Linked DNA regions of Homo sapiens. The protein of the gene in region 2 interacts with the protein of the main gene of each other region in a biochemical or structural test. Each region holds a gene or a part of one and is shown on either strand. Other genes may lie near its edges. The genes, in order: CAT and ABL2.

Region 1 (13,681 bases), on a different chromosome or scaffold from region 2:
TCATTTATTGTTGAATGCTGAACATTTCCATATAAAAAGGTCTAGAATCATTTGAGTTTCTATTTTCCACCAAAGAAAATTTTGTTTGCTTCTGACAGATGGCGTAGAAAGAGATCACCTTAATCCAATCTGAGACTGAGCAGAGGCAAAGTTATGTTTCCTGTATTGTGAAAGCAAGTTTATTTCATGTTTGCCCTTATTCCTAGGCATGGCCCTTTAAGGATTTCAACTGAAAGCCTTGAGTATAACTAGAGGCTCTGCTTCTTAGCAGACCTTGAATTCCAATTTTTGTCCCTTCAGACTCATGAGACTGCTGTAAACACCACTCAGCTTCTGGACCAGTGCTTACAAATTAACAAATACCTTAAGAGGAAAGGAAACCAAATGTCAAGCTTACTTCACTGCACTTTTTTTTCCTGCACTTCTTTTCCATCTTTGATCTTGGTCCCTTAAATCCTTGTTGCTTTGTTAGCTCTCCAAAGCCTTCAAACAAGTGCTTTATGTATTTTACCTACCTTTTCAATGTTCTCCATGAAACGGTAAGTAAGATACAAGCTAGTCTGCCATAGACAGATGCAAGCCCAAGTGAATCATTTTTAAGAGAATAAATCTGGACCTTCTTATGTATTTCCCATGTGATACATCATCACAGAATTATGCTATGAATCTATAACAATAGTATTGTGATTACTTAAAAACCACACTATATCCTATATAGTGATAAGAAATTCTCTCAATAAGAATGAGCACATAATAAATTTTCATGTGTAAGCAATAGCCTCATTAATTTTTGCAGGGGTTGTATGAGCTGGTTTAATACCTGTATTGACCTCACATAGGCAAAATTCTTTGAGAGGCAGGGAATGTACTGTAATATACTTGGTGTCATCTGCATCACCAAAAATAATGCAGTTACATAAAAGGTATGCAGGAAATGTTTTAAGCTCATCTAAAAATGGTTTATATCCCACAATAATGTAATTTCTTTTTTATATATACGTATATATGTATATACGTAAATGCTTTTCAAGCAAAGATATCCTCACAGCGAATTAATTCATGTATAAGTATTTTTTACTTGGAACCCACATTCACAAACTGAGAAACTAGAAATAGGTTCTAATCTAATTTAAATACTAAGTTTAACACTAACTGCTCAAACAGAGCTCTAGAACAACTATACCTTTAACTTTATTATTTTATTGTGTGTGGTATAAGTTGCACTGGACACATTAAGGAGGCAGCTGCCCACCTACAGCCCTTCCAAGTCCAAGGGCCTCCTTCATAGCATGTGCTGAAACAGCTCTTAGGGCAGCCATAGGCAACTGGAAAGAGGATGAGCATTTGCCCTGGGGCGGTTAACTAGAGCCTGACCAAGGCCAATGGTGCAACCTGGGGTGAAAAGATTAGCCAAGTCAATAGGATTCCATCTCTCTAGAATCTAGAGATAGACATGTTGAGAGAAGGAGTAAAAGGTGGTCCAAAAAAAAAAAGTAATAATGGAGAAAGACGCCATAAAGGAGAGTTTTCCATTGTTGTGGAAGAGCCACAACCATGATAAAACAGAAGCTCTGACGCAGATAGGAGAAAACAGGAAGCTGTGGTAAAAATAATCAATTAGCATTGGCAAGCAGAAGCAGACAGATGGAGAATAAGCCACGTGAAGGACGAGCCCTGCAGTGGAAACGCCCACACTCTTGTGGCCGAGGCTCCTGGAGCTATTTTGGATCTCTAGTTCTAGTCCTTGAACCTGGACTGTCCTGCCCAGATTCTTAGATTTGTCTCCACGTAAGCTGTACATGCTCATTTCTTAAATTCCCATGAGATAACTGTTTCCCCAATGCCCCCTCCCCATATCCCTTCAATAAAGTTTGAAGAAACTGAGACGGAGTCTGCATGCTTTGAGGCAAAAGACCAGAGTAATATAACCCTTCAACTCCACCCAGTAAGGGGCCCAATTTACTATTACAGATGAGTCTTCCTTGAATTCAATTTAAGATACATCAGACAGTTGGGGCATTTGCAGGGAGGGGGATTATGCAGGCATTGACAAGGAGAATTAGCAGGTGACTTCCATAGCAGATAAAGAGAAGTCATTACCTGAGTAACGTTATCATCATTGGCAGTGTTGAATCTCCGCACTTCTCCAGAATATTGGATGCTGTGCTCCAGGGCAGAAGGCTGTTGTTCCGGAGCACCAAAGCTGTTGGGGTAGTAATTTGGAGCACCACCTTCAAAACAAAACCACCCAGATGCACTTAGGAATAAGAAAAGTCAAGTAAGTCTGCAAATAATCACTGTGATGAGAAATAAATTCAAGTGGTAATCAAATACACACGTACACATACACAGATATAAACACAACGCACACATATTATTTTTAATTTCCCGCATTTAGCTACAGGTAGTATGAAGATTCTTAGGGAACGCTGCCATCTGCTAAATGCTTGCACAGGCTGCCGCACTTTATGAATGAATCTCAAAGTCCCTTTTGACACTTCAAAGGGTCTCATCTATCAAGTCTTCTGAGGGGTACAGCACATGTAGAAGTTTATACAGGCTTGATTTGGCCACCATATAGGGATGAGGCTCAAAGACACATTTCAAAATTGACTTGAAAAATTGTGTCATTTGGACTTGGGCTCAATTCAAACACTGCATCACAAAATTCTTGAGGGAAATCTGAAAGTTCTGGTTCTGCTCCTTGAATCTACAGACACAAGCATGGAGCTCTGTGATGGGACCTGACTGCTGCAAGGTCACACGGTAGCCAGTGGTAGATATGGGGTTGGAACTCTGGGTTTTTTGTCTCCTCCAGCCCAGCATATACAGTATTTCCATTACAGAACTCTACTTTGCTATTCCGTAAAGTGTTTTTAGGATTCTCAGGGTATCTCTCCTTTACTGACAATGATGACTTTGTTCCATTGTAGCTTCACTTTCATACCCTCCACAGACCAATAAACAAAGAATTTTTTAAAATGTGGTAATTGTATATCAGCACTTACTTATCTGGACTTATAAGAAACAGTGACAAATACAATCAAAATATTTTCTATGACTTTTGAAATAAATTATAAGGCTTTTTTTTCGTTTTAGCATATTTATTTTCTCAACTATGCTTTGGCTGACATTAGCAGAAGCTTTCATTACCCGAGCACACACTGCCTAAACAGGAGTGGCCCAGAAACATATTAAGTGGTTTGAGCAAACCAATCTGGGGTTGGAATTTTAGCCAGCTCACTGCCGTAATAGATTATCCACAGTGGATAATCAAGAGGTGCCTATGTATGACATTCATCAAGACACCAAGTGTGTGTGTAGGGGAAGGAAGAACACCATACTATTATAGAGCCCAATTATTCACTCAACAAATTCAACAGATCAGTCACATCTACATGAAAAGCAAAATGCTCCAAAAACCAGCCATCACAGTGTTTTCTTCATTAAGAACTAGCTCTTTGAAATGTGCCTAGTTAATTTTTAAAATCCTACTTCCAAATGAGCCCTGACCTTTACTCAAAGTGGTAGTTGTCTTTAAAGCACTGACCACAGGAACAATTAAGCTCTTTCACTGAGCTTCAGGGTCACAGCCCAAATGCTCTACTTTTACAATCAAGCCAGGCGCGGTGGCTCATGCCTGTAATCTCAGCACTTTGGGGGGCCAAAGTGGGTGGGTCACCTGAGGTCAAGAGTTCAGGACCAGCCTGGCCAATGAAACCCTGTCTCTACTAAAAATACAAAAATTAGCTGGCGTGGTGGCACACTCCTATACTTCCAGCTACTCGGGAGGCTGAGGCATGAGAATCTCTTGAACCCAGAGGCAGAGGCTGCAGTGAGCCAAGATCATGCACTGCACTCCAGCCTGGGCAACAGAGTGAGACTCTGTCTAAAAAATAAATAAATAGATAAATAAATATAGCAAAATGTAATAGCTATGACCTTTGGGTGTTGGGACTATATGGGAATTTTTCTTTTTTCTTCTTTTTCCTATATATTCCAAATTTTCTTTAGGACACTTGTATTATTTTTATCATAGAAAAATAAACTTTGTTTGAATATAGACATCTGTGGCTATAAATATAAATCATCAGTAAAATTTCTAAAGGGATCAATGCATGCAGTCTATATTACTAAAACACGTGTCCTAAATGGGAAAAGAAAATAACTAAGATCTATATTAAACTGTGGAATAGTAAAAGGAAAAAACTTTAATCAAGCATTCTGCTTGACTTATTAGAAAAAGTAATTAGAACCAGAGGCTGTTTGTATACGACACCAAAAAAAAAGTAGTTAAAAGAAAAAGATCCTAAGTTTGATAAATGAGTTCCAAAAAACAAAAAGTGGTAAGTTGATTCACCTAACTTTATTCACTTAGGAAAAAATGAAGGGAGGGGAATCCTTTGACTTGCTCTGCCTCCCCTACTCTCTTCTCCCCAGCCTTCCCTGCTAATTCTAGCTCCCCTCCAAATTCTAGCTAGACCTGCTCCTCCAGGGCCACAGCAGAACTGCAAAGAGAAACAGAAGACTCCAACTCTTGGCTTTCGCACTTCCAAGGGTCTAAGTCTTGGTGATTTCACAGTGAGTTAAGGAATTGTCCATTTTGGTGAAGTGTCTTCAAAACCTAACTCCCAAGCTGGATGTTACTGTACTCTAGCCAGTGTGAAAGATCTTTCTCCCTGCTTTTAACTACTGGATACAAGTAACATCTGAGGTGGAAATGCTCAATAAAATATATAAAATAGATAAAAAGCATGGAGAGTCCTCAGGCAGCCTAAATCTTCACTGCTGGGCAAAAAAGCGCCCAGTTAGCAGCACCTGGGGAGCACCTTTACCAAGCAGGAGGTCCTGCGGGGCCAGCTTGAGAGCCACTGGCCTGGCCTCCCGCCCATCTGCTCCACGTGCCCTCTGCCCACGCAGGGGGAGCCCAACGTCTTTAGGCCTACCCTGATTGTCCTGCATGCACATCGGGCCGTCACGCTGGTAGTTGGCCACTCGAGCACGGTAGGGACAGTTCACAGGTATATGAAGATAATTGGGTCCCAGGCGATGGCGGTGAGTGTCAGGATAGGCAAAAAGGCGGCCCTGCAGTAATAAATACAATAGACACTGACTAGGGGCAGTAACATATAACATAGGAATGGGCTGTAAACTTCATTCTGAAATTTGAAGTACAAAGCACTCTGTACATGGTTACCACAAAATTCTGCCTTTCCCGCTACTTAAGAGTGAAGCCTCTACTCTTATGAAACGAGTTCTCCCTAACTGAACAGTTCTGAATTTCCCAGGCCCTCTGGCCAACCATAAATCTTCACATCTGTTTTTGGTAATAATATCTTTTTTTTTTCCTTCTGCATAACAAGTTAGTGTCTTGTCTTATACAGTATTACTTCCTATTCCCAAGGAAGTATTGCATTATAAAATAAATGTGCTAGAACGTTAACTAACTGAAATATTGAATTAATTCTATTCCTCCTCATTCCCCCACTCCAGGGAAGGAACCAATCATTTGCTCTTTACAAAAAGCAACACATTTCTACAAAACCAACAGCATGGGAAATTCTTCAAATAAGCACTTCCAACTGGGCACAGTGGCCCATGCCTATTATAATCCCAGCACTCTGGAAGGCCAAGGTGAGAGGATCGCTTGGGCCCAGGAGTTTGAGACCAGCCTGGGCAACACAGCGAGACCTGTCTCTACAAAAAAAAAAATTAAAACATTAGCCGAGCATGGTGGCATGTGCCTGTAGTCCCAGCTACTCCAACAGGCTGAAGTGGGAGGACTGCTTGGCCCAGGGGATTGAGGCAGCAGTGAGCTGCAATCGTGTCACTGCAATCCAGCCTGGGCAACAAAGCAAGATCAGAAAAAAAAAAAAAAAAAAAAAAAAAGTACCGCCCACTCCCATGCTGCCTTCTGAATTATCTCAGAAACACTTTGAGCTCTGAGACTTTCTAGATATAAACAACAATAACAAAAAATCTGTGGTTCAAAATGAAAGCCCTACAATGCCAAAGGTAATCAATCTAAGATTAAATTATGTTCCATGTTAATCAAGGCAAAGATGGCAAGCATCTTGAAATTTCTTTCAGTTAATGCTCAAACAAAAGCTTTATGATAAATTCTGCATTAATCTTAATATCTAATTATTGAACTATTCTCATTATTCATACTCCTTTTCTATGAGCAATTTTTCTTCCATTGAATTTATCATTGGCCTTGAACCTTAAAAGTATTTTTATATCCCTAATTCTATGAGGCAAAATAAAAACCAAATTGAATAGGGCAACTTAAGCAATAACTTTGTTCCAAATCACTGATACCAACAGACTTAATCCAGTCCCAGTGTTCTGTCAATATTTTGCTTTTGGCTGAATGACTCCCTCTTATCATCATTTCAAATAGCCTAAGGTCATATTTAGATGACTAGCCATGCGGCCATGACCAAAACTCAGCTATAGGTTGGAAGCTGGTTGTCTCCTTTGGCTCAAAAAGTTGTGCTCTTGACTCCATCAACAGGATAGGAGATACAATCCTGCCATGGGCAGCTCCTGGATGTAGCCTCTATCACCTAATTCTGATTTTGTGTCACCCTGTGTTTATCAGGCAACCTTACCCCACCTATGGGTGGAGACCAACAAAGGTTGGGAAATGGGCACAGTGAGGCCATACCCTGACACCAGCTTGAATCTAGGCCTTCCCCAAGGCCCTGTGCCTGAACTCCCTTGCTGGACCTGCGTGAGTGGGAAAGCCTTTCCCACCCAAGCAACCGGCCCAACTTCTCCAACTCTTGGCAAAATGCAGAGAATGAGAGCAAGAAAGGCTGCACCTGTGTCCTCAGGTACTCAGGGGACAGGACAGTCTCTCTATGACTTGTATTATATTATTTGTCCATTTCACCATGGTGTGGCTCACCACTTTGGATAAAGTTATAAAACTTAATAACATGACCTTGTTAAAAGGCACCTGTAAACACTGCCCATTAATATATCAACCGCCACTGCCTAGGCTACAATACTCATGAGCTCTCAGCAGGAATAACCCCAAAGCCCCCCTAACTGGCTTTCCACTTCCTGTCCAACAAGACAATCTACATATTCCCTACTCACCTACTCAAAAAATCTCAAATCATTCCTTAATGGTCACCAAATGGCTAAATGAGTACAACAGTCCTTCCCCAACTGTATGGCTCCTCACAGGCTCCATGGTATTGGAACTGATAGCTAAATGACCTAAGAAGGATGGGGGAAAGCTAGGCTAGAAACAATAACTCGACAAACTTATGAAAGCTCTTTCGAACAGTTTCTAAAACTCATTTAAAAAAAAAACAACCTATAAAGAGTACACTGAATTTAAAATAGATATATTTGCCAGAACTAAAATTAATACTAACAGAAATTATATTACTTTCTACTTGTCATCCTTTTTCAGAACTCTCTTCCCCACTGTTTGAATAGCTGCCTTAGACATTTGCTTTCTTAGGAATGTAGAGAATACGTATTTGCTTTGCAGTCCTTTTCCCGGGGGCCTAGTTCTCCATTCAAATCTTCATTGTTCTTCAAATTATATGACTCAGTGCTGCTGACTGCCTCACGGTCCCACTGTGGTTCCAGAGACCCATGGTGACTTGGATTCTTGTGAAAAGAGTTTAGGTAACCTTGTATTCCTCAATCCGTTCCCTCCCTGGGTAACCAGGGTTATGCAGCCTCTGCTCTGCCCATGACAATTTCATGCCTTGGCAAATCCCATTAGCCTCATCCTCTCACAGTTCAGCCACCAGGTAGGGAGTTTTAGGGCCCAGGATTACCTTGTTTTGGCTTCCTCTACTCCCTGGTTTCAATGCAAACTTCTGCTTTTCCTCTGAGAACTGCCTGACTTTCCTTTTGCTATTCCCAATCCCTAGTTGTCGCTTTTTCTATTTATCACCAAGAGGAGTGATTCTACTCAATATATCCCAGACCACACTTCTCAAAACTGAAGAAAGCTTTTCACTCCTACTCAAGCATTTAAGGTCCCCTCTGACATATACTCAATGAACCTACCCAAACTCTATTCTTCTCATTCAGGAGAGAGTGACTGTTTATAGTTTCAACACACCTAACATGTCCCACCTTTGTGCCTATACTCATGTCCTTCTCCTGCCGCATTTTACCTACTAAAAATCAAAATCCTATCTATTCTTCAAAACAATCTCAAATGCTACCTCGTTCATGAAACTTCGTGGCTGACCTCCTATCAGACAAAATTTTGCTTTCTGGATCACCATGGCATTCTGCCTTACATTATGGCACCCAAGACAGTCCACCATACACAACAGACAGGTACTCAATTTGTAACAGTTGAATTGGACTAAAAACTAATGAAAAACTTACTTTCTATAAAAGCCTCAGATGTTCCCCAATGTCATAAGCAAAAAAGTTATTTTTTAAAAACGGAATCTTAGCTTGTCCTCCATGCAGACTGAAACCTGAACTGGAATCAGATACTTACATAAGAAGTAACCTTCAGTCGCTGTGGTCTGATTTAGGGTACAATCTTTAACCTTTGTTTCAAGGTCACAGTCTAAAACCACAAAAGATTGATTTATACAGTAATTATTAAGCCAATTATTTTCTTACTGATTCTGATCCAAAGTACAATTTTTCACTCTTGGTACTCTTGAAAGAGATATTAAAAAGTGATGTAAAACATACTGATGGCTTAACATTAGCAAGGTGAATGGTTAATCCACTGCTTTTATCACTGGCAGCATACATGTAGTTCATAAAGATCATCCCTAGATCTCTTTTTACAAATGGAAAAATTCAAGCATCACCATGAAACAGAAAATGAGGCCAGCCACGGTGGCTCACGCCTATAATCCAGCACTTTGGGAGGCGGAGGCAGGCAGATCACTTGAGGTCAGGAGTTTGAGACCAGCCTGGCCAACAGGGTGAAACCCCGTCTCTACTAAAAATACAAAAATTAGCTGGGCATGGTGGCGGGCGCCTGTAGCTAATCAAGAGGCTGAGGCAGGAGGATCGCTTGAACCTGGGAGGCGGAGGTTGCAGTGAGCCGAGATCATGCCACTGCACTCCAGCCTGGGCGACAGAGCAAGACTCTGTCACAAAAAAAAAAAAAAAAAAAAAAAAAAGAACAAGAAAATAAAGTTAGGCTTACCAAGGTATTATAATTAATTAACCATACTTCAGCTACAGACAGAACAAACCATGCTTCACTCTATCAATACTTAAGGTATTTCTATTATGTCTTTTTTTTTTAATTAAGAGAGTAAGTATTCTTGTCTTCACATATGTAGGGATCTTACCATGGACTTTTGTTTATACTTGGTTTACTCAAGGAATGCTCATTGAAGAATAGTTCACCTCAGTGAATCCCACAAGGTAACCAAGCACCCAGATTAAAGTTTAAGTAATGTTCTTGTTAATTCCTCACATAAAGATCATGCCAAGCTGCATATTTTGTGTGTGCATGCTCACATGGACACCTGCCTCAGAACATCTCAATCCACCAGGCTCACCTGAAGCATTTTGTCAGGACTGGCCTCAATGCCAGGTGGCATGTTGCTTGGGTCGAAGGCTATCTGTTCAACCTCAGCAAAGTAATTAACTGGATTCCGGTTTAAGACCAGTTTACCAACTGGGATGAGAGGGTAGTCCTTGTGAGGCCAAACCTGAAAATGATGTCATATTCACAATTACCAGGCAATCAACTGAAGGAAATCAAAGCTACCCACAAAAATACCAGATTTCAAATACAATCAAGCCAATGAAAATAATTTTTAAATCCAATAAAACATAAGAATTTAAGATGAGTGCCTTAGTTAAATCTTTCACAATAGTAAGTGGTAAATACTGACAGTTTCCCCAGGAAAAAGTACATCAGCTTTTCATAATCTGTTCCCTGTTAATAACAATATATGAAGCCACATACACATACTCAATGAAATGACAAACAGGAACGTGGAAGTAAGATGCTGGTAAGCACTCATTCACAGCTTAGGACACTCTGAAGTGGTACCCTCTGTATTTTGTATATGACTTCCCCATTATTATAATTGTTTGACTAGATTTTTTTTCTAATTAGGTAAGAAGAGACTTAAAAAAGAAAACAATATAGTTGTTTACTGACTCACCTTGGTGAGATCGAATGGATTAAATGGAAAAGTTTCTGCCTGATTAAATGTCATGACCTGGATGTAAAAAGTCCAGGAGGGGTACTTTCCTGTGGCAATGGCGTTAAAAAGATCCCGGATGCCATAGTCAGGATCTTCCTGGGAAAGTCTCGCCGCATCTTCAACAGAAAGGTTTTTGATGCCCTGGTCAGTCTACAAAATGAAAGAAAGAAGCTCCAATGGAAACTTATTGTCAAAGTTATCAAAATTTCATCAGTAATTCATTGAAGGATTATGAGTAACACTGCCCAAAGAATGAACTTTCTTTACAACAATACTTCTATTGTTCAAATCTGATACTAATGAATTTATCAACAAGAAATTCTACTTGATTATCCCAATACTTTTAAATGTCAAGGGAATCCCATCTACACATTTCATATTTAAAATCAGTCCTATCTTTCCCTTTATGTATTCTATTATTTGAATTTTTACACTCATGTTACTTTCCAAATCAGAAAAATCAAAATATACTTAAAAGTAGGCAAAAGATTAATAAAATTAAAGGACTACTTGCCTTTTATCATGAAGTAATGTTTTAATTCCATTTCATGACAGCTCAAATCAATTACTGAGACTGTGCTCGGCCAGTATCCCTTCACCCCTGTCCTATTCCTTTTTTTTTTTTTTTTAATAAATCATAGAATCATAGCTCATAGAGTTGAAAAGAACTTCAGTACAGCCACCTGGAACTAGTTCTCTGACTATGAGCAGGCAAAATTAATATTCTGACTTTCCAAGCAAGACATTAAAACCCAGAGAAGCTGTGTCACTTCATAAGTGCTCCTGTTATCATATCATACTGTTCTTTGATGGACTGACCATGTGATCTTATTCTCAAAGACCTCCCAACAAGCCAAGTGCCGCAGAAAGATTTCCTTAGCAAAAATCAACTCTGAACGCTGGTCTATTTCTACCACAGAAATCCCAACTGTCTCATCAGTGAAAAGGTTTGAACTCTTACTACTGAACAAGAAGTAAAGCCACCTTCAGGATTAAAACAATGAAGGTCACCATGTACAGATCGCCCAAAGAGCTAATATATTAAGTAGTACAATAACACTGCAATACCTTTCTGATTTTAACTGAATCCTTTAGGTTTAGAAAAGAATAATCTTAGGTCAGAATAATCCAGACTGATGAATCCATGTAGATCTCAGGCTACCTTAGGGCCCTAGGATAAAAGACCCACAAGCAATCCAATCTTTCCAGGACTTGTATAGCTGGTAATATTATGCCAACTTCACAGTGAAAAGAACTGGAGCTCAAAGAACTTTTAATACTATGCCCAAGGCCACAATTATCTAGGAGAGTAGAAATTTGAGTTCAGGCTGGCATAACTCCAAGGCTACCAACTAGACTGGCTGTCCTAGATACAACCACTTAGTCTTATTCTAAGTAATACTACATTGACCCTTTTGGCAATTACAAGCCAATGGGTCAACTGTTTCATAAAATTTTTCCTTGTCAAATATTATAGATCCAAGTTATGAATATAAAAAGAGGTGATAGTTTTCCTGTTTGATATACCTACATTAAATTGTTCAGATAAAGAAGAAAGCAGGATAGAAGAAAATAGGGCTTTTGGATGTCACTAAGAGAGAGATTATCCAGTACTGGTCACGAGCCCACTTCTTTCTGCTTATCTTAGCAGCAGTATTTGGAAACAGAGGTTCTCAGGCTTGTTTCTGACTAGCCCTTGGGAGTTCTCTGGGAATATCACTAACATGCCAGGGTTCACTGGCAATATTGCTCATTGTAACAAATGCCATGCTTATACCAAAAGAGGGCCCTTTATAATATTTCAGTTGATTAAAACATTCTCAAAACCCTCCCCAGATGTAACTGATTTGATCTGGCTATATGAATGCAAATTTTTAAAAACAGTATAATTTTGTTTTCTGACATTTGTAATTGATTTTACTTATATGCCTTGTTCATAATAAAACCTCAATAAATGCTAAGTAAATAGATGGATGACTTAAAAAGTTAAAAGAAATGATATTGGAAAGACACTATTGGATGTTGGAAGTGATAATGAGATTGGGATACGCTCCAAGGTCCTCAGATGGTAGCCAACAAAATCAGTACTGATCAATGAGATCAATACTTCCCAACTTTGGGGATGGAGGTGAGGGAAAAGTGGGAGAAGCCTTAATCTTTGCTCAATCCTTCAGGAAAAATAAGGAGGTATGCGGTAGGAGCCTTGTACCCTCTGCCCCAAAGGTAACACATACCTTATAATGGAATTTGCAATAAACTGCCTCCCCATTTGCATTAACCAGCTTGAAAGTATGTGATCCATATCCATTCATGTGGCGATGTCCATCTGGAATCCCCCGATCACTGAACAAGAAAGAAACCTAAAGAACAGAAATATAAAGCCTAAAATGTTTTCATTTAAATCAAAACATCCTTGATTTTTAAGATATTCCTTAGTTTCCAGAAAGTCCCTTAATGACATAAAACATACTAGCCAATTTCCCATGGGAAGGGTTACCATTATTATTTCACTTGTAGAAAATAACAAACAGAAAAATTTTAAATCAAAATGATATGCAAATCACTAATACTATGACTCAAAATTCTATGAAGGAAAGCCAAAACAACCTGAAAACTGGCCTAATTTGTTATTCAAAATTTATTTGCATAGCAAATTTGTTTGGTACTACTTTCCCCCCACTTCCTTAATACAGAGCTTTACCTTACACTACAGACTTTCATCCTTACTACTGCTAAATATCAACTGACAATGTTGCTAGCTATCTATCATCATCATCATCATCATTTAAGGCCGATGAATGGGGGATGATTAGTAAAGCCAGTTACTACAAAACTCTTCACGATCAAGAAATCTGAGGAAGCTGATTCCAATAAAATAGCCAAAACTGGAGAGACACTTTATGAAGAGGCATAATTAAACACTGCATCCCAGGTGATATAATACAATGGCAAAAAAGGGTTCATACCTGATGCAGAGACTCAGGACGTAGGCTCCAGAAGTCCCAGACCATGTCCGGATCCTTCAGATGTGTCTGAGGATTTCTCTTTTGGCTGTGGATAAAAGATGGAAACTAAATAGAAAAAAGAGAGAAAAAAATCCAAAAACTAAGTTTACAGGAATTATGGTGTCTTTCATTATATATGCCTATTACTAGGTTTATGGATTATAATTCTAAATACAATCCTAGAATTTTAAACTGCCAAACCATAATATGAAATTTACTCAGCATAGACAACTAGCATCTAAGATACCCTAAAGTATTTCAAATATACTCAAAACTATAGTCTTTTCTTTTTTTTTTTTTTTAAGACAGGGTCTCACTCTGTCACCCAGGCTGATTGCAATGGCATGATCACAGCTCACTGCAGCTTTGACCTCCTGGGCTCAAGCAAATCTCCCACCTCAGCCTCCCAAGTAGCTGGGACTATAGGCATGAGCCACCACACTTGGCTAATTTTTGTATTTTTTTGCAGAGATATGGTTTTGCCATGTTGCCCAGGCTGGT
Region 2 (16,744 bases):
AATATCTCTGAGTGTACAATGAGGAAAATACTCTCTCCTTATGTATTTGTCCATTCTCACGCTACTGTGAAGAAATACCAGAGACTGCATAATTTATAAAGGAAAGAGGTTTAACTGACTCCCAGTTCTACATGTCTGGGGAGGCCTCAGGAAACTTGAAATCATGGTGGAAGGCACCTCTTCACAGGGCAGCAGGAGAGAGAACAGCCAAGTGAAGGGGAAAGCCCCTTATAAAACTATCAGACATGGTGAGAACTTACCATCAGGAGAACAGCATGGGAGAAACTGCCTCCATGATTCAATCATCTCCACCTGGTTCTACCCTTGACACGTGGGGATTATTACAATTCAAGGTGAGATTTGGGTGGGGACACAGAGCCAAACCACATCATCCTACTTGCTGAATATATCAATCATTTAAATACTACTGAGTGCCTGGCACCATTAAAGGTACAGGGACTACAAGGGTGAACAAGACCAAGTTCCTGTTCTCACAGGTCTTACCATCTAAAGCAGCAATGTCCATTAGAAATATAATGCAAGCTGGGCAGGGCATGGTGGCTCACACCTGTAATCACAGCACTTTGGGAGGCCAAGGCAGGTGGATCACCTGAGGTCGGGAGTTCGAGACCAGCCTGACCAACATGGAGAAACCCTGTCTCTACTACAAATAACAAAATTAGCCAGGCATGGTGGCAAATGCCTGTAATCCCAGCTACGCGGGAGGCTGAGGCAGGAGAATTGCTTGAACTCGGGAGGCGGAGGTTGTGGTGAGCCAAGATCGTGCCATTGCACTCCAGCCTGAGCAACAAGGGCAAAACTCCGTCTCAAAAAAAAAAGAAAGAAATACAATGCAAGCTGGCTGGGCGTGGTGGCTCATGCCTATAATCCCAGCACTTTGGGAGGCCGAGGCAAGAGGATCACCTGAGATCTGGAGCTCAAGACCAGCCTGACCAACATGGAGAAACCCTGTCTCTACTAAAAATACAAAATTAGCCAGGCGTGGTGGCACAAGCCTGTAATCTCAGCTACTTGGGAGGCTGAGGCAGGAGAATCGCTTGAACCTGGGAGGCGGAGGTTGCAGTGAGCCAAGATCACACCATTGCAATCCAGCCTGAGCAACAGGGGTGAAACTCCGTCTCAAAAAAAAAAAAAAAAAAGAAATATAATGCAAGCTACAAATGCCATTTTACTTTTTCTAGTAACTACATCAAAAATTTAAATTCAAAAAATTAATTTTTATATATATGTCTATCTAAAATATTATTTAAAACATGTAATCAATATAAAAAAATTAATGCAGTACTTTATATTCATTTTTTCCATACTGAGTTTTGAAACATAATGTGTATTTTATTACAGTACTTCTCAATTAGCTTATTTGTATTTATTTATTTATTTTTACGCTTATTTTTATTTTTGTCTTTTTTTTTCTTCCTTTTCGTGGAGAACAGAGTCTTGCTATGTTGCCCAAGGCAGGTCTCAAACTCCTGGGCTCAAGCTATCCTCCCGCCTCTGCCTCCCTGAGAGATGGGATTACAGGCATGAGCCACCGTGCCCAGCCTATTTATTTTTAAATACAGAAAGGGTCTCACTATATTGCCCAGGCTGGTCTCAAACTCCTGGGCTCAGGTGATCCTCCCACCTCAGCCTTCCAAACTGCTAGGATTACAGGTGTGAGCCACCACTCCTGGCCAATACTTCTCAGTTAGGACAAAGGACATTTCAAGTGCTCAAGAGCCACAGTGGCTACTAGCTGCCATCCTCAACAGTACCAATATAGGGAGGAAATGGATGGGTGCTGCTAATTTTTTTTCCATTTTAAATCTTGTCATATTCTTTGACTTCTAAAACTGCCTGCATGTATTACTGTGGTAAAAATAACTAAAAGAGTCCAGGCGTGGTGGCTCACACCTGTAATCCCAGTACATTGGGATGCTATAGGCAGGAGGATTGTTTGAGCCCAGGAGGCTGCAGTGAGCTATGATCATGCTACTACTGCACTCCAACCTGGGTGACAGAGTAAGACCCTATCTCTTAAAAGAAAAAAATTATCTAGAAATATCAGTTTTAATAAAATAAAAATATCAGTACAAAGTTATTAGATGCAATACAAGTAAGGCAACCAAACCTAGACTCAAGATGGACATACAAAATCAAGGCTTCCTATACATTAGCAATAAGCAATTAGGAAAGATTATACTTAACAACAAAAATCATAAAATGCCCACTAATAAACCTACCAAGTAATGTCCAAAAACAAGATTAAGAAAATGAAAAAGATTTTACTGAGGGGCAAAAAAAGATCTGCCTGGACTGGCAAAGGGATGTCATGTTCTTGGCCATAAAAACACAATAATGCAACATCAATTCACCCCCAAATTAACCTATAATTTGATATGACCATCAAAATCTCCTAAATCTTAACAACATAATCCTAAAGATCTTTGGAAGATATAAGATGCAACATCTAAATAAAATTTTAAGAACAACATAATGATTGGGGAGCTAACCACATACACATACACACTATATAAGCTTACAATAATTAAAATAGTATATTAACAATGTGCAGGAGGAGACAAAGATCAATGGAACAACAGTTTTAAAATGACATATATATATATATATATATATATATATATATGAGAATATATGATAAATATGGCTTTTCAAATCAGTGGAGAATTGATGGACTATTCACAAATTAATACAATGGAAAAACATTGTTTGTTCCAAGCTCAAATATATATACCCTTCGGATGGATTCAAATTACAAACATAAAGAAAAAACACAGGAAAGATGGAGAAGATATTTAAATATTCTTATAAACAAGTATTCATCAATAAGAAAGTGGTTAAATATATGGCTAAAGCATGGGACACTATAAAGCTGTCAAAAAGGATGAGAAATCTACAAATACTGGAATAGAAAGACCTTCCAGATAAATAAACACACACACAAAAATTGTGGGTCGGGCACAGTAGCCCATGCCTGTAATCCCAGCACTTGGAGAGGCCAAGGCAGACAGATTGCCTGAGGTCAGGAGTTTGAGACCAGACTGGCTAACATGGTGAAACTCCTTCTCTACTAAAAATACGAAAATTAGCCGGGTGTGGTGGCGGGCGCCTGTAGTCCCAGCTACTAGGGAGGCTGAGGCAGGAGAATCGCTTGAACCCAGGAGGTGGAGGTTGCAATGAGCCGAGATCATACCACTGCACTCCAGCCTAGGCAACAGAATAAGACTCAGTCTCCAAAAAAAAAAAAATTGGGGAGAAAATTCATACAGTATAATGCCATTTATGAAACGGCAAGAGAAGTGTTAATATATATACTCATATATATGTAAATACACAGCAAGTTCTGAAATGGCTGGGTGTGGGAAACACCTATCGAACCACAAACAGTAGTTTCTTCTAATAAGGGAATATGTATTGGGCCAAGAATGTCAAAGGGGACTTTCATGTCTAGTCTATATGCTTCTGAATTATTATTTTTTTAACCTTGAGATACCTTTGTATATTTTTATGCAACTGAAAAATGCATGGCCAGGCACTGTGGCTCACGCCTGTAATCCCAGCACTTTGGGAGGCAAAGGTGGGTGGATCACTTGAGGCCTGGAGTTCGAAACCAGCCTGGCTAACAACCCTTTCTCTACTAAAAATACAAAAATCAGCTGGGCGTGGTGGCACATGCCTGTAATCCCAGCTACTCAGGAGGCAGAGGTTGTAGTGAGCTGAGATCATGCCACTGCACTCCAGCCTGGGCAACAGAGCCAGACTCTGCCTCAAAAAAAAAAAAGAAAAGAAAAGTGCCAATTTCAAAATGAGTAAAAGAAAGCTACTGTAACAAAAACCTTCAGGTATCAACCTTTCTTTCCTATAAGGAACAGATGAGTGATACAAATTGTACTTGTTAGTATTGTCAGTTTTTTTTAATGTTTTCTTAGCAATTACCTAGAAACAAAATGCTAAGTGGTAATCTTCAGTCCTAACTCAGTACTGTTTTTTTAATTTGCTGGAATTAGCACACAGAGAGAAACATGTTAACAAAATTACATGTGTACATATTATGTATTATACTAAGCTCCAGAATATTTTTTTGACCTTGTCCACATGAAGTGAAAGGTTTTTGAACACTTCTTCTCCCTAGAAAGCAAACCCGAGAATACAAATGGCCTGGGCCTGCCCAGCTTTAGCGTTCTGCTGGATCAAAAGCCAATAATGGCAGAGTTCACTATAGAGAAGCCGGCAGTTCTACCACGGCAGAATCAGCACATTTACAGCAACCAGCAAGTGGGAAAAAAGCTAAGTGCTGTTTTCATATTTTTAAGCAACTAAGTTTAAACGTTGGATAGTAATATATTTAATGTGTATTTATCCATGAATTTGAGTGAATTTCATTTGAAAATACTGACAAAATGTTCTAATTAGTATAATGACAACAAATTTACATACTGAAATTATGCACTCAATCCAAAAAGGCAACCAAGAGTTTTTGTACAAAATATCCTCACAAACACAGACACACACATCTCTTTTTAGTTGTTTCGTAAGGATGTTCATCAACATCTATTTGATCAGCAACATTCTTTTAGATAGCAGTTCTGTCTAAATTGTATCTAAAAATTCTCTCAGAGCCATCAACATAGGCAATTAGTACAGAATAAATGAATAAAAAAATAGAAAATGCTCTGGAGTGTTAAGCTAAAATTTTTTAAAAATTCTCCTGCCATTATCACCTGGGGGAAAAGGTCTTTATAAGTTGCATATTGCAATAATAAGCTAAATATATCATGTGGTTACACAGATTCTTTTTTTTTTTTGGCTGGACTGCAGTGGCGTGATCTGGGCCTGCAACCTCCACCTCCCGGGTTCAAGCAATTCTTCTGCCTCAGCCTCCCGAGTAGCTGCAACTACAGGCGCACGCCACCATGCCCGGCTAATTTTTGTATTTTTAGTAGAGGTGGGGTTTCACCACATTGGCCAGGCTGGTCTTGAAGTCCTGACCTCATGATCTGCCTGCCCTGGCCACCCATAGTGCTGGGATTGCAGGCATGAGCCACCTCACCCGGCCAGTTACATAGATTCTAATATAAGATGATTGGAGGCCAGGCGTGGGAGCTCACGCCTGTAATACCAACACTTTGGGAGGCCAAGGCAGGCGGATCACTTGAGGTCAGGAGTTCAAGACCAGCCTGGCCAACGTGGTGAAACCGTCTCTACTAAAAATACAAAAATTAGCTGGGTGTGGTGGCGTGCACCTGTAATCCCAGCTACACAGGAGGCTGAAGCAGGAAAATCGCTTGAACTCAGAAGGCCGAGGTTGAACCCAAGAGGCCGAGGTTGCAGTGAGCCAAGATGGCACCATTGCACTCCAGCCTGGGTGACAGAGCCAGACTCCATCTCAAAAAAAAAGAGCCGCTCGGCCTGTGGCTCAGTCAGGTGTGGTGGCTCACACCTGTAATCCCAGCACTTTGGGAGGCCAAGGTGGATGAGTCACCTGAGGTCAGGAGTTCAAGACTAGCCTGGCCAACATGGTGAAACCCCATCTCTACTAAAAACACAAAAATTAGCCGAGTGTGATGGCATGCACCTGTGGTCCCAGCTACTCGGGAGGCTGAGGCAGGAGAACCGTTTGAACCCAGTGGGTGGAGGTTGCAGTGAGCCTCGATCGTGCCATTGCACTCCAGCCTGGGCAACAGAGCAAGACTCCACCTCAAAAAAAAAAAAAAAGAAAAGAAATATTAGTAACACTAAGCCTAAAGATTAAGACAGGAGTTCAACATTACCATGAGATTCCAAATGGTATGGTGAGTTCCCACCTCTCCTTCATTAGACCATCATATATATCTAAGACTCAATCCATAGCCACATACTATACAAATCTAACCCTGGTCTACCAGTCTGAAAACCTCATCACTGGTCAAGACAGATGGGGTAAAAAATACCTAAAAATCTTTGTATTATATATATACATACATATGTATAACTACATACACACATATTCTAAAAGGTAACTAGGCACCAGCATATACCAAAACTATAGAATCACAAACAGACATCCCATCTTCTTTGGTCTCTAATATTTTTTAATTTGAGCAACGAGGGTTTTATGAGTTTTAAAAGAAAAAACAGATATTGAGTACTTAGAACATGCCTGGCACACAGCCCTCAATAAATGGCAATTATTTCATTACCCAATTCTTCCAGGAACTGTAGCCCAATCTGCTCAAGAATGAGTCAGCAGAACTGTTTTCTACTTCCCCTTTCCCTGATAACTCCAGATTTTTTTCAAAAATGTGTCTCTCAAGAGACCTCTAATGTACGAACTTTTAGAGATAAACCACCAAAAAAATGGTATAAGACTGTGGTGACTTGCATGTGGACACTAATAGGCTAGGAACAAATGAATTTCTGAACCAGTTTTGAAGAGAGTTAGTACATTACATCCTGTTTTCTGACAGTCATTCAATCACCTCTGATCAAGTACTCTTTTCTTTTCTTTTTTTGAGACAGTCTCGCTCTGTCACCCAGGCTGGAGTGCAGTGGTACGATCTCGGCTCACTGCAGCCTCTGCCTCCCTGGTTCAAGCAATTCTCCTGCCTCAGCCTCCCGAGTAGCTGGGACTACAGGCGTACGCCACCACGCCCAGCTAATTTTTGTATCTTTAGTAGAGATGGGGTTTCACCATGTAGGCCAGGAGGATGGTCTTGATCTCCTGACCTTGTGATCCACCTGCCTTGGCTTCCCAAAGCACTAGGATTACAGGCGTGAGCCACCACACCAGGCCAAGTACTCTTCTTAATCTCACATGAGCAGGAGATTCTCAAAGCATGGTCCCCAACCAGCAGCACCTGTAACACCTGAAAATTTGCCAGAAATGCAAATTCTTGAGCTCCTCCTCAGCCCTAAATCAGAAACCCTGGAGGTGGGACCCAGCAATCTGCTTTAACAAGCTCTCCACGCTCAAGTTTCAGAACTGTTCTATATGATTTGAAGTAGCTACATATTTACCTCGTCCAGAAGACATCTGTTAACATGGAAAAGGTTCTTAAGTATTTTGAAATCTCTGTATGTGCAGTGCCACATTAAGAAAAAGCCCATCTGACTCACAACTTCAAGAAGATAATCACACTAAACAAGTTTTCTTTTTGAGACAGGGTCTCATTCTGTCGCCCAGAATGGAGTGCAGCGACGTGATTATGGCTCACTGCAGCCTCAACCTCCTGGCCTCAAGTGATCCTCTCACCTTAGCCTCCCCAGTAGCTGGGACTACATGTGTGCACTAGCACGCCTGGCTAGGTTTTCTATTTTTTGTAGAGACAGGGTTTCGCCACGTTGCCTAGGCTGGTCTTGAACTCCTGAGCTTAAAGCAATCCACCTGCTTCGGCCTCCCAAAGTGCTGGGATTACAGACGTGAGCTACCATGCCTGGCCTAAACAAGCCTTTAAGAAGAAACTTTACATCCAGAGGTAAAAATAACACAGAGAAGAAGAAAAAAAAAGGTCTTAAAGGATGTCAGATGAAGAAGGTTACAACAAAGTCATTTAAAAAAGTCATTAACTATTAACCAGCAAACAAATGGGCCAACTTAGAATGAAGTCTCTATCAACTTTAAATTTGCATTGGCCAGTGTTTCTGGTTCAAGTTCTTTGATGGAAGAAAAAGATGTCTACAAGAACCAGGCACTACATATACTGATACCCAGTCCCTAAGACAAAGACAAATGGTCTAGAGAGGATATCACTTACCTTACAAGGAAGGTAGACCTAAAGTGATTTCAGATTCTCCTGTGATTTCAGATCCCCAAAATTCCCTTACCTTTTACTGCTTTCTGAAAGTCCTCTAATAAGAGTAGCTTAATAAGAAGAGAAAATGAAGTAATAAATATAAATGCTAAGGCAATTCTACACTTTGGCATGCCATCACAATGATAACAATAGCAGTGCTTAGGTTTACAAAACATTTTCACATACAACTCATATAATCTTCACAATCATCTTGAGGTAAATAATGACAATAAAACTGATATTTATTGAGCACCACAGTGCCTGGCACTTAAGAGTCTCGTACAATTTTATCACTTAATTATTTCAACAACCTGTTGTGAGGGATAAACCATGTACCAATGTCAGACACAAAGCAAGATTTATATCCAATTATAACTGATTTTAAAACCCACATTCTCTAAATCTCCACATTATGGCAAGACTTGGAGACAAAACTATCAGTCCCAGCTCTATCATTTAACAGCTATGTAACCTCAAGAAGTCACTTAATTTTCTAAACTCTTCATCTACAAAATGGGAAGATTAATACCTGCTTCACCTATTTCAGAGTAGTTGTAAAGGTCAAGTGAGATGAAAGACATAAAAGGTCTTCTTCAAAAGCTCTAAAAACTACACAAACATTATCATTCCCTATTTTGAAAGAGACTGAAGTAAAGAGGAATAAAAACATACAATGGTGGGGAGATGCTGGTTTTTCTTGTTTGGTTTTTGTTTTCCGTTTAAAGCAGGTTGAGCACCAGCTGCCTGCCACTTGTGAGCTGGGTATGTGCCGCACAGGACAGTGCCTTGTTTAGGCGATGGTCACTTTGTCAGGAAAATCTACCAAGGAAGAAATTACCAAACCATGTCTTTTTTTCTGTTTATGGAGTAGTTCACAGCAAATCTTGAGTGTTTTGACTAAAGCATGGAATACAGAAAACAAACTTCAGCTAGTGCTTTAATCTCTGCTGAAATTCTACAGGTATGTGTTTTATAAGCAGTATATGGCAGGATTTTAAGCCAGTCTGAAAGTCTGGTTTTCAGTAGCATTATTTCTGACAGCTACATACTGCTGAATGTTCAACTGGTGAAACTGAAGGTCTTTTCACTCAGAAGAAATCAATCAAGAAGAACTTGCAGTTCGCAAGCTTCTGAGCTGCTGTGGATGGCCCTGGCTCTCCAGACTGCCCTTCCCACTGAGATCTCTCACATGGGGTCTCCTGCTGCTGCCACTCCTGACTCTCCTCCTGATGTGGTACCTCTCAGCCTTCCCCACTACAATGTGACAGAATATGTAGACTGGATGTACTTTTACAAGTATGAGCCAATTTACAGATGAGGCTTTCACTTCACATTTTGAGAGCATTCAAACTGCTCTGATCAAAATCCAATTCTGGTTATCCTAGTGACCTCCCACCCCTCAGATGTGAAAGCCAGACAGGCCATTAGAGTTACTTGGGGTGAAAAAAGTCTTGATGGCGATATGAGGTTCTCACATTTTTCTTAGTAGGCCAACGGGCTAAAAGAGAAGACAAACTGTTAGCACTGTCCTCGGACGATTAACATCTTCTTTATAGTGATGTAATCCAACGAGATTTTTTAGACACATACAAAAACCTGACCTTGAAAACTGGCCAGGCACAGTGGCTCACATTTGTAGTCCCAGCACGTTGGGAGGTCAAGGCAGGTGAATTACTTGAGGCCAGGAGTTTGAGACCAGCCAGGCCAATATGGTGAAAACCCATCTGTACTGAAAATACAAAAATTAGCCAGGCATGGTGACGTGTGCCTGTAATCCCAGCTACTTGGGAGGCTGAGGCACAAGAATTGCTTGAGCCCAGGAGGTGGAGGCTGCAGTGAGCCAAGATCGCACCACTGCACTCCAGCCTGGGTGACAGAGCAAGACTCCGTCTCAAACAAACAACAAAAACAACCTATTATGGCATTCAGGTGGGTAACTGAGTTTTGCCCCATTGCCAACTACATCATGACAACAGACACTTATGTGTTCATCAATACTGGCAATTTAGTGTAGTATCTTTTAAACTTAAACCACTCAGAGAAGTTTTTCACAGGTTATCCCCTAATTGATAATTATTCCCATAGAGGATTTTACCAAAAAAAAAAAAAAACGTATTTCATACCAGGAGTGTCCTTTCAAGGTGTTTCCTCCCTACTGCAGTGGGTTGGGTTATACAATGCCCAAAGATTTGGTGCCAAGGATCCATGAAATGATGGGTCACGTAAAACCCATGATGTTTATGTCAGGATCTGTTTGAATTTATTAAAAGTGGACATTCATATTCCAGAAGACACGAATCTTTTCTTTCTATATAGAATCCATTCAGATGTCTGTCAATTTGGATGTGTGATTGCAGCCCACGGCTTTTCTTCCAAGGAGATGATCACTTTTTAGCAGATTATGCTATGGAACATCACATGCCATTAACTTCGCATTCTATGAAAAGCCTAGAAGAACAGGATACTCTGCGGAAAGTGTTAAAGTTCCTACTGTGAAAAGTTCATGGAGAGGTCAGTGTACTGGCTTACACTTAACTTTTTTTTCTTTTGAGACAGAGTCTTCGCCCTGTCCCTCAGGCTGGAGTGCAGTGGCGTGATCTCAGCTCACTGCAACCTCCGCCTCCTAGGTTCAAGTGATTCTACAGCCTCAGCCTCCTGAGTAGCTGGGATTACAGGTGCCCGCCACCATGCCTGGCTAATTTTTTTTTTTGAGACAGGGTTTTGCTCCTGTTGCCCAGGGTGGAGTACAGTAGCACGATCTCGGCTCACTGCAACCTCTGCCTCCCAGGATCAAGCGATTCTCCTGCCTCAGCCTCTTGAGTAGGTGGGATTATAGGTGCGCGCCACCATGCCCAGCTAATTTTTGTATTTTTAGCAGAGACAGGGTTTCACCATGTTGGCCAGGATGGTCTCGATCTCCTGATCTCGTCATCCACCCACCTCGGCCTCCCAAAGTACTGGGATTACCAGCATGAGCCACCGCGCCTGGCCTGAAACTCACCAGGAACCCACAAACTGGTTACACCTTATGATTTATTTTGACAAAAATCATGTCAGATCCTTTAAAGATGATATTCAGAGGAATATATTTAAAATACCTTTAAAATAACAACAACAACAAAAAAAAAACAGGCCGGGCACAGTGGCTCACGCCTGTAATCCTAACACTTTGAGAGGCTGAGGTGGGCGGATCATTTGAGGCCAGGAGTTCGAGACAAGTGTGACCAACATGGTGAATCCCCATCTCTACTAAAATACAAAAATTAGCCAGGTGTGGTGGCAGCCGCCTGTAATCCCAGCTACTCGGGAGGCTGAGGCAGGTGAATTGCTTGAACCCAGGAGGAGGAGGTTGCAGTGAGCCAAGATCGCGCCACTGCACTCCAGGCTGGGAGACAGAGCAAGGCTCCCTCTCAAAAAAAAAAAAAAAAAAAAAAGTCCAGATGCAGGGCCTCATGTCTGTAATCCCAGCACTTTGGGAGGCCAAGGTGGGAGAATCACTTGAGCCTAGGAATTTAAGACCAGCCTGGCCCAGTACAGCAAGACCCCATCTCTACAGAAAAATTTAAAAATTAGCCAGGCATGGTAGCACGCACCTATAGTCCCAGCTACCCAGAAGGCTGAGTCAGGAATGGCTTCAGCCAGGAGTTTGAGGCTGCAGTGAGCTATCATCATGCCACAGCACTCCAGCCTAGGCAACAGAGCAAGACCCTGTCTCAAAAAAAAAAAAAAACCACCTAAGTAAATAAATAAACTATCGAATAAAGCAGGCTGAAGACCCTTACAGAGAAACTTCAGACTTCATCACTTTACTTGGAATTTTACTGCCAAGTGGGCTATGAGAACAGAATCTGTACCACAACTTATTACTTTGCTAAAAATATGGACCCCAACTACACATCTATAACTTACACAGATTTGGAGATTAATAAAAATCTAACAGCTGATTTTTTTTTAAAAGTTTAGTCTGCAGGATTGGCACTCAAGAAAAAAAGAAAAATAAATAAAAATAAAAAATGAAGTTTAGTTCTTATATTAAGTCACCACAATTAAAATTCCCTCACAACAGCCTTCCTGTGCTTTCCATAGCATCGTTTTCAACCTGGGGTGCCAACAGCCTTCATTCCACAAAGATTAAAACATGAACTACTGGCCGGGTGCGGTGGCTCACACCTGTAATCTCAGGACTTTGGGAGGGCAAGGCAGGCAGATCACTTGAGCCCAGGAGTTCAAAACCACCATGGGCAACATGGCAAAACTCTGTCTCTACAAAAAAAAAAAAAAAATAGAAAGGCATGGTGGCGTGCACCTATAGTCCCAGGTATTCAGGAGGCTGAGAGGTGAGAGGATCACTTGAGTCTGGGAGGTCAAGGCTGCAGTGAGCCATGATCTCGCCAATGCACTCCAGCCTGGGCAAGAGAGTGAGACCCTACTCACTACAAAAAAAAAAAAAAAAAAAAAAAACTACAGATCCAAAATAAAAAATAAATAAATAAATCAGATCACTTAAAATAATGAGTTTGATTTAAGGAAAAATTTTTGTTATTCCAAACTTCATAATGTAAGGGTTTTTGTTTGTTGGTTTTTTTGGAGACGGAGTCTTGCTCTGTCGCCCAGGCTGGAGTGCAGGTGCGCGATCTCGGCTCACTGCAAACTCCGCCTCCGGGGTTCAGGGGATTCTCCTGTCTCAGCCTCCTGAGTAGCTGGGACTATAGGTGCCCGCCACCACACCTGGCTAATTTTTGTATTTTTTTAGTAGAGACAGGGTTTCACCATGTTGGCCAGGCTGATCTCGAACTCCTGACCTCAGGTGATCTGCCCACGTCGGCCTCCCAAAGTGCTGGGATTATAGGTGTGAGCCACCACGCCCAGCCTAAAGTTAATTTTTAATAGAATTTTTAGAAAATGAGAGAGGGAAGCTAAAGTAAAATCATTCAGCTGTTAAAAGGTATGTGAGATATTCAACAGCAAGTAAGTATTCAACCCTAGATTATTAGTCATGAAACATCAGCTCACCAGAAAGGTTTAATAGCAGAGCTTGCCTCTCGCAGTGGCTCACGCCTATAATCCCAGCACTTTGGGAGGCCGAGGCAGAGTATCACCTGAGCCTAGGAGTTTGAGACCAGCCTGAGCAACATAGTGAGACCTCCGTCTCTACAAAAAAAAAAAAAAAAACACAAAATTACCCAGGTGTGATGGCGTGTGCCTGTAGTCTCAGCTCCTCGGGAGGCTGAGGCAGGAGGATTGCTTGAGTCCAGGAGTTTAAGGCTGCAGCGATCTACGATCGCAGCACTGCACTCCAGCCTGGGTGGCAGAGCAAGACCTTTCTCTAAAATAAAACATAAAATAAAAGAGTTGACAAAAAAAATAGCAGATCTCAGAAAAGTCACACAGCACTCACTCCTTTCATACCAAAAATGGCTCTATTATTTTTGTTCCTTCTAAATTACATTCACAAAAATCACTTTTGGCAAGGCAAATTATTATCACAGCTTACCCACATATTATTAACGATAAAAAATGACCATTTTAGCTAAAGAAAGAAAAGTCCTGGACTCTGATAAACCATTTCCATAATGTATGTACCTTTTTACTGATTAACTAAATGTATTATTTGGCTTATATTAAAACCTACATGTAAACCCAAGAGTCTAACAGACCTAACATTCATATATGAAATTATGTGCTAATACCTCAATATGGCAAACTCAAGACAGTAATTTGTACACTAGATTCGAGCACCTACATTTACCATGTAAAGGTCAAATGATACATCCACTGAGAAGCTTTCGAATCTAATTCATTCATTCATTCATTCAATTCAGAATCTATCACATTTCTAAGTGGTGTCCTCAACTAGGGGCAATTCTGCCCCCCAAGAGATTTAACAATGTCTGGAGGCATTTTTATAACAAGTAAGGGGCAAAAAGAAGGTGCTACTGGCATCTAGTGGGTAGAGTCCAGGGATGCTGCTAAACATCCTACAATGCACAGGACAGCCCCCCAAAACACAGAATTAGCCAGCCCAAAATATCAATGCCGCCGAGGTTAAGAAACTATGACGTGGCCGGAAGCGGTGGCTCATGCCTGTAATCCCAGCACTTTGGGAGGCCGAAGAGGGCGGATCATGAGGTCAGGAGATCAAGACCATCTTGGCTAACACGGTGAAACCCTGTCTCTACTAAAAATACAAAAAAAAATTAGCCGGGCGTGGTGGCAGGTGCCTGTAGTCCCAGCTGCTCGGGAGGCTGAGGCAGGAGAATGGCGTGAACCCGGGAGGCGGAGCTTGCAGTGAGCCGAGATCGCGCCACTGCACTCCAGCCTGGGCGACAGAGTGAGACTCCGCCTCAAAAAAAAAAAAAAAAAAAAAAAAAAAGAAACTATGATGTACAGAAAAAAACTTTTTAAACCCATCTGTCTAAAAAACAGTACTCACTGCACCTTTGTTTCCTATATTATTTGCTAATTCCTTTCTTTTCATACTAGTCTTTGGCAATAAACTCGACCTATTCCCATTTTTTCAATCAGCTTCTAACTTCCAAACTTGTCAATAGAATCTTCATCATCCCAGTTAGCCAGGTTCTAAATCCTGGTGTCATCTTTGAATTATCCCTACTTTTTTTTTTTTTTTTTTTTTGAGACAGAGTCTCGCTCTGTCACCCAGGCTGGAGTGGCGCGATCTTGGCTCACTGCAACCTCCACCTCCCGGGTTCAAGCGATTCTCCTGTCTCAGCCTCCTGAGTAGCTAGGACTACAGGCGCGTGCCACCATGCCCAGCTAATTTTTCTATTTTTAGTACAGACGAGGTTTCACCATGTTGCTCAGGCTGGTCTCGAACTCCTGACCTCATGATCTGCCCACCTCGGCCTCCCACAGTGCTGGGATTACAGGCGTGAGCCACCGCACCTGGCCGAATTACTCCTGTTTTTAATAATAACAGTAGTATTAGTAATGGCAGCAGCTACACACATTTAGCTCATACTATGTGCCCAGCCACTATTCATTTAATACTAGGTACTATTATTATCACCACTTTACAAATGAAGAGTCCAAGACACAAAAAGTTAAATAACTTGTCCCAGGTCACAAAGCTCATAAGCAGCCAAGCAAGGTTTCAAATCCAGGAAAAATGGGTCCAGAGTTCATGCCCTTAACAAATACTCCAAAGTGATCTCTCTTCTTTCATCCTCTATCAAATCATAAAGTCCTTTAAGTTCCAAAGGGCAGGGACTCTGTTATGTTCACAGCAACATTCCCACAATCCAGTACATAACAGGTGCTCAAAAAAAACCCTTGTTTGTTGAATGAATGAAAGGACCCTTGAAATTACTCCTCCCATTTCCACTGCCACCACTCAAGGCCAGTCTTTCAGGTAAAGACTAGCCAATCAGGTAAATGGATATAAACTTCTCTGCCAGATTTTCCATAACCCAGTCCCATCCAGCCTATCAAAATTTTCTTTCTACTGCTTCTTAATTAGAATCATAAAATCTTAAAACCAGAAAGTATCTTAGAGATCATCCAGTCCAACCTCCTCACTTTACAGATAAAGAAACCCAAAGATGGTGACTAAAATCACCCAGGCAGGTGGAGCCAGAACCAGAACTTGACTCTTCCAATTTTTGCTCTATGATCTTTTTCTTCCAACTCATAATGATGCTTCATTCCTGACAGCTGTCTCCTCACTAGCCCATCAACAAATTATATCTATTCCCATGTTCCCGTTCAAGTTGTTTCTTCTACCCAAATTGTTCTCCCTCTCCATAGATCCAAATCCTCAAAATGTCTTCCTATTCCATTCTTCATGACTTCCTCTTTCTTGGAAAATCTTACATACCGAATAAGATAGTAAAGCAAGAGGATCACCATTGCCTACTAGGCCAAGTTTAATGCATAGTAACACTTCCCACAAAGTGAAGCTTACTTGGATGATTTCTTCCCTGTAAACTACTAATCCATTCTTCCATCCTGTGTTTTAGGAAGTGATTTTAATAAAGATTAGCTCATATATCACCTTCATAAAGTGTTCATATACCCGAAAGAGACACTCAAGCACATCTTCAATAGGAGACATGTGGCCAGGCGCAGTGCCTCACGCCTGTAATCCCAGCACTTTGGGAGGCTGTGGCGGGTGGATCATGAGGTCAGGCGTTCGAGACCAGCCTGGCCAACATAGAGAAACCCCACCCTACTAAAAACACAAAAAATTAGCCGGGTGTGGTGGCGGGCGCCTGTAATCCCAGCTACTCCGAGGCTGAGGCAGGAGAATCGCTTGAACCTGGGAGGCAGAGGTTGCAGTGAGCCAAGATCACGCCACTGCACTCCAGCCTGGGCGACAGAATGAGACTCCGTCTCCAAAAAAAAAAAAAAAAAAAAAAGAGTTTGGGCCAGGAACGGTGGTGGCTCACACCCGTAATCCCAGCACTTTGAGAGGCCAAGGCAGGCAGATTACCTGATGTCAGGAGTATATGACAAAATCCCACCACCACCAAAAATACAAAAATTAGCCGGGCGTGGTGGTGCACACCTGCAGTTCCAGCTACTCGGGAGGCTGAGGCAGGAGAATCACTTGAACCCGGGAGGCAGAGATTGCAGTGAGCCGACATCCCGCCATTGCACTCCATCATGGGGACCAAAGCGAGACTCTGTCTCAAAAAAAACAAAAACAAAAACAAAACAAAAAAACAAGACAAAAAAAGTTTGGAGACAACTATTCTAAAAATACATTGACAATGAGATCAAAATAATAGGTTTCAGACTACAGGGAGCATACATACATGTATGTATGTATATGGGCACACGCACACACTACAAAGGAAAACTTGTTCATATCCTGACTGACGTCCTAACCATGCCCACCAACCTCTAGCCCTTGCCAGCAATCTCAGAATTGTGTGTCCTACTCTGAAGCATAGTACAGAGGCTTTGGCAAAGCCTTTCATTTCTAGTAAAAA

The links.
Region 1: the proteins of ABL2 (region 2) and CAT form a complex in vitro, tested with the Homo sapiens proteins (one study listed by BioGRID).

Annotation. Positions count from the first base shown.
Region 1 is NC_000011.10:34,452,655-34,466,335, reverse strand, and holds part of CAT (catalase), read right to left. Parts: intron 13,247-13,681; coding exon 13,142-13,246; intron 12,536-13,141; coding exon 12,410-12,535; intron 10,326-12,409; coding exon 10,134-10,325; intron 9,672-10,133; coding exon 9,519-9,671; intron 5,086-9,518; coding exon 4,947-5,085; intron 2,232-4,946; coding exon 2,101-2,231; intron 1-2,100. UniProt on the Homo sapiens protein: Catalyzes the degradation of hydrogen peroxide (H(2)O(2)) generated by peroxisomal oxidases to water and oxygen, thereby protecting cells from the toxic effects of hydrogen peroxide.
Region 2 is NC_000001.11:179,211,905-179,228,648, forward strand, and holds part of ABL2 (tyrosine-protein kinase ABL2), read right to left. Parts: intron 105-16,744; exon of another isoform or gene 1-104. UniProt on the Homo sapiens protein: Non-receptor tyrosine-protein kinase that plays an ABL1-overlapping role in key processes linked to cell growth and survival such as cytoskeleton remodeling in response to extracellular stimuli, cell motility and adhesion and receptor endocytosis.